Regions from separate parts of the Homo sapiens genome. Here region 1 is linked to region 2. Evidence: fine-mapped expression QTL. A gene starts in region 2. The other region holds a variant in brackets. All regions are shown on one strand. Distances are between the middles of the regions.

Evidence for each region. PIP is the estimated chance that this variant, and not a neighbour inherited with it, causes the effect. A credible set is the group of variants that fine-mapping cannot tell apart.
Region 1: its variant is the best candidate, but not a certain one, in a credible set for the expression of RBSN in nasal epithelium (TOPMed, PIP 0.84).

What each region holds. Positions count from the first base shown.
Region 1 is chr3:15,247,707-15,250,206 of GRCh38, reverse strand. The region is part of intron 19 of CAPN7 (calpain 7); the gene reads right to left. Among named protein-coding and RNA genes, the nearest start is that of SH3BP5-AS1, 5.2 kb to the left of the region's middle. The variant C/T (reference allele first, on the strand shown) is at 1,472.
Region 2 is chr3:15,097,797-15,100,823 of GRCh38, reverse strand. It overlaps RBSN (rabenosyn, RAB effector), which reads left to right and starts at 1,676. Exons shown (of 14, transcript NM_022340.4): 1 at 1,676-1,789; 2 at 2,550-2,705. RefSeq lists enhancers at 1,589-1,718, 1,607-2,471 and a silencer at 2,809-2,888.

The DNA.
Region 1 (2,500 bases), 150 kb before region 2:
GACAGGGGGTCTCACTATGCTGCCCAGGCTGGTCTGGAACTTCTGGGCTCAAGCTATCCTCCTACATTGGCCTCCCAAAGTGCTGGGATTACAGCCTTGAGCCACCACGCCTGGCCACAGGGTATAATTAAAAATATTGTCATTGGCCAGGCGCGGTGGCTCACGCCTGTAATCCCAGCACTTTGGGAGGCAGAGGTGGGTGGATCACAAGGTCAAGAGATCAAGAGCATCCTGGCCAACATGTTGAAATCCCGTCTCTACCAAAAATACAAAAATTAGCTGCGCATGGTGGTGTGCACCTGTAGCCTCAGCTACTTGGGAGGCTGAGGCAGGAGAATCGCTTGAACCCAGGAGGCGGAGGTTGCAGTGAGCCGAGATCACACACTGCACTCCAGCCTGGTGACAGAGCAAGACTCTGTCTCAAAAAAAAAAGAAAAAAAAAATTGTTATTGTAACAAATGGAAAGGCCTATGGGACAGGAAAGAAAGCCCTGAAACAAACTCTGAATTTACAGAAGTACTTAGCATATTATAAACGTGGCATTCCAAATCAGTAAGGAAAGATTCATTTAGATGGTGATGAGGTAACAAAAAATTTAGAAAAAAACTCTTAAATTGTATTTCATACCAAATATAAAAATATATTCATATGAATTTTTTAAATGCAAAAAATTGAACCATAAAATAATCAGAATATGGTGAAAATTAATTTGGTAATGTGGTGAGAGTTCCTGTCCACAGCAAAATGAAACCAGAAGACAGATTCATTATTTTAAAATGAAATGTTTTTCTATGTGGGAGAAAAATGACAATCTGAGAAAAATATCCACAAATATGTGAAGGAGTTAATACCCTTACCTTTTTCATGCTTATAATTAAAAAAAATGACAACTCTATGGGCAAGAAACATGAATAGGGAATAAACAATATTGTAATGAACATTATTACATGTTCAATCTATCTAGAAATTAAGTACAAAAGAGCAAATAGGTTTATTTACCTATTTCACCTATCAAACTGGTAGAGGTTTTAAAAATGACTTTCTTGTGGAAAAATAGTTTAATCAAATCTTCGTATCTAATGGGTTATTAACTGCTGCTGCTGGATTAGTTTGTAAGAAAAGCAAAATTAAGCCCAATCTTATTTAGAAGGTAGTTCTGTTTTTATTTGTATTCTGTTTTTGTTTTTTTTTTTTTTTTTTGGTTGTTGTATGAGACAGGGTCTCGCTCTGTCAACCAGGCTGGAGTGCAGTGGCATCATCTGGGATCACTGCAACCTCTGCCTCCCGGGCTCAAGTCATCCTCCCACCTCAGCCTCCCAAGTGGCTGGGACTATACAAAGCACATGCCACCATGCCTGGCTAAATTTTTAAAAAAATTTTTGCAGAGATGAGGTTTTGCCATGTTGCTCAGGCGGGTCTTGAACTCCTGAACTCGATCCTCCTGTCTTGGCCTTCCAAAGTGCTGGGATTA[C/T]AGGTGTTAGCCACCATGCCCAGGCTGTATTCTCTATATTTTTTAAACCTTTTAAAACTATGAAATATAACACTTAAGTAAAACATATATACAACTTAATCATTTGCAAAGTGAATAAACACCTGGGTAACCATCACCCAGATCAACAAATCCTCTCAGCACCACAGAATTCCCTGTATATTCCTAATTGCAACTCCTGTCCCTCGACAGAGCTTTTATAGTAATAACTCTCTTGCTCTGCTTTATAGTTTTACTACCTTAGTGTGCATCCTTACATGAGTATTTCAGTTTTGTCTGTTCTTGACTTCACAGAAGTAGAATCACATGGTATGTATTCTGTACATGTGGCTTTTTAAGACTTATCCATTATGTTGTGTGTAGCTGTAATTTATTTCCATTGTTATATCAGGACTATTATATGACTATATTATAATCTTAAATGTTGTCAATGAATATATGTTTCCAATTTCTGGCTATTACAATGGTTTACTGGCCATCTGGATTGCCCCCTTTATAATGTGTTTTTATTTTTTTATTTTTATTTATTTATTTATTTTTTTATTATACTTTAAGTTTTAGGGTACATGTGCACATTGTGCAGGTTAGTTACATATGTATACATGTGCCATGCTGGTGCGCTGCACCCACTAACTCGTCATCTAGCATTAGGTATATCTCCCAGTGCTATCCCTCTCCCCTCCCCTCACCCCACAACAGTCCCCAGAGTGTGATATTCCCCTTCCTGTGTCCATGTGATCTCATTGTTCAATTCCCACCTATGAGTGAGAATATGTGGTGTTTGGTTTTTTGTTCTTGCGATAGTTTACTGAGAATGATGATTTCCAATTTCATCCATGTCCCTACAAAGGACATGAATGTGTTTTTATTTTTTAAAAACTGCAGATTTTTTTCTTATCAATGCAGCATATTTACAAACATTTTAATATGCTCTTTGTCTTAAGAAATCTTTCCTCTCTTGAGGTTAAAACATTTCCTGCATTATCATCTAGAAGCTGTATTGTTTTGCCT
Region 2 (3,027 bases):
CAATTCTTCTGCCTCAACCTCCTGAGTAGCTGGGATTACAGGCGAGCGACACCACACTCGACTAATGTTTTATATGTTTGGTAGAGACAGAGTTTCACCATGTTGGCCAGGCTGGTCTTGAACTCCTGACCTCAAGTTATCTGCCCACCTCGGCCTCCCAAAGTGCTGGGATTACAGGCGTGAGCCACCGCGCCCGACCAAATATGTTTTTTGTAAATGATAAAATGACAAGCAAAAATCATGATGGTTTAATAAACGTTCATTGCCCTACCCAAAACATAGTCCTGCCTGTAAGTGTGGCTCGTTTTGGGACCTCGGTGGCTTCAGACTTTCAAAAGGGTGGTTTTACTCCCAAAGTCCTGGCTTTTGGGACCTAAGGCAGAAGCTAGTGATGGAGACGGGGAGCTTGGCATGTTGCTTTGCTTCTGACAGGTTAGGAAGCCTCTTCCTTGTCTCCATCAGTAAACAAAGGGAAGTCATTATTCGCTCCTGCAGATGTTGTAACGTTAAAAAAAAATTGGCCATCAGATTGAGAGAAAAGGCTAAGTCACTGGAGCCAATTTCTTTTGTACAGATGAGAGAACTCAGGCGAAGAAAGGGGAAAGGACCTGCTCAAAGCCACAAAGTAACGTACAGCCAGGGCTAGAACCCAGATCTCTAGACCCCTAGTTCACTGCCCTTTCACTGGTGATTGCTTTCCAAAAACTCAATGCTCTCCAAGTCCGGAGCCCCATGTCCTTAAATGGAAGGTGATGGAGGCTCAGTGCTCCTGTCCAGAGACCAGGTGGGGAAGACTTTTTGGAGGCAGGGAAAGTGAGATGGGCAAAGCCAATATGCAGGACACCCTCCTACCTACCTACCTACCGTGCAATTACCTCAATCTTCACAACACTGTGAAGCGGAGACTATCATTATCATCCCCATTTTACTTCTGTAAAAGGGGGCCAGTAACACTGCAGGGATGTAAACGGAGGCCCAGGATCGTCCCATCGTCCCATCGTTCTCTGCAGCTCTTGCTCCTAGAGGCTGGCTATTGCTAAGGTCCAGAACGTGTGCAGGGCACAAAGCAAATAGGTCTCCGGGACTGGGATGAGGTTTTGCCTCTCTATACCCCGTGGTACCCAGCACAGCGTAGGCACGGGGTAGGTCCTGGCTGATCAATCGTCCTGCCTTTTGAAAATGCCATCTTTTCCACAGGCTTGGCCATGCTGTACACCCCGGGATACACCTTCTCATACCAAGTCTCCACTCTCATGTGGTTCTATTCTTGGACTTTCCATCGCCTCCACGTCCCCTGAATATTTTTTCTGTCTCTAGCTCTCAGGAACTTTGATTCCTTGGCTGCCTTATTCTTTGTGCACTTTGGTCAAGAGCCAAAGATCTACTGGTCTCAGCTTTCCCACCTGTACAAGGCGGTGCAGAGCCATTGGCTGGCTTTGACGCGCTATTAGTTCGAATTCGGGACGTAAGAACCGCACAAAATTACCGAGCCCCACTTTCTCTCCGCTCCCCACCATCCCCTCCCTCGTTCGGAAAGCGCCTGCGCAGAAGCCGCCGGCCCGCCCTCCACTATTCGAATCCGTATCCGCCCTTTTCGCGCCCTCGAAGACTCGGCGCTCGACAGGCGTCTACCAGCTTGTCTTCCGGTTTCGTCGCCGCCGCAGGCGCACCTGCCGAGTTCCGAGCGACCGATGGAGATGGCGGCTGCGGCTGAGTGACGGACGGTGGAGGCCCAGAGCCCGGGCCTGAAGGGGGGGACAAACCTGGGTGCCCGCAGGAGCCCGGCAGGGTACATACAGAGGGTCAGGCCCAGTCTGGGGGGCGGGGACACGACTCCTCCAGAACGGAGACGGGCGGGCCGTGTGTGGTTGTGGTGGGTGTGACGTGAGAGGTGGGAGATGGGGCTTTCAGGCCGTGCGTTTCGCTTGTGTGTGCCTTTGATGATTGGGCTCTGTGTGGTTGTGCGGTTACGCGGGGCGTATACACTTGGGTTTGGTTGTGCAGCTGTGGGTGGAGTGGGTGGGTGCTTGTCTCCCGAGCGGTTGTGTTTGATTCTCTGGTTGTGTAAAGCTGAAGCGTTTGTATTCTGAGTTCGTGTGGAGATGTTCGGAGTGTTTTGTGTGGTGTCTGTGCGATGTGTGACGTTGTCATGTCTGCTTCACGGGATTGAGTCGTTCGTGTTGTGTGTGGTCATGCGATGTGTGTATAATCATGTTAGTTATGTGGGTTGTGGTTGCGATCGTGAGGCCGGGTTGAGTGCGGCTGTGGGATGTGTCGTCGATGCGGCATGTGGCGGGGTGACATTCATGCTGGATGTACGGCTGCAGAACATGTAGCTATATTTATTTTTTTTATTTTTATTTTTTTTACTTTTTACGTGATTTAGAGTGCGAGGGGCTTGCTTATGTGTTCAGTTATGGTTGTGGGGTCCAATTCGGTGGTTGTGTTAGATTTCTTTATGGTGTATGCTTAGTTATATGATTTTGGAGTTCATTCATTTCTTCGTTCATTCATGGAGCTTTATTGTGCTGCTTCATTGTGTGTGCCAGGTACTGTGCTAAACCCTGGGGAGACGGCGAAGTGGAAAACATATAGAGTCTGTGCCCTCCCAGATTTTACAGTCTTACTTGGTCACTTCACGTATGTACCTGCGGTTATAAATTGAGATGAGTGCTGTGAAGGAGAAGTCCATTCTGATGCTCTGAGTAAGAGGCATTTCTTTTGAGGAAGTGAGGTTTGGGTTTGGGCTGAGGCGTGAAGGGTGGTTGTGTGGCATGGATGTGGTGGGCTTTGTGTTATTTGTGGTCGTTAGGGGTGAGTGCATGGGAAGAAAGGGAGCTGTCAGAGTCAGCATCAGATGAACCACTGGCTGGGGAGGGAACAGGCCAGACCTAGGGCTGCTATATTCCAGTGGAAAAGTTATGAAGTCACTGGGTTTCTTAACTAGAGGGAAAAAATAGGGACCTGGTGTCTCATTTGTTTATTTTCTGAGTTGCTGCCACCCTTCAGCTTTGAGGACCAGGCAGT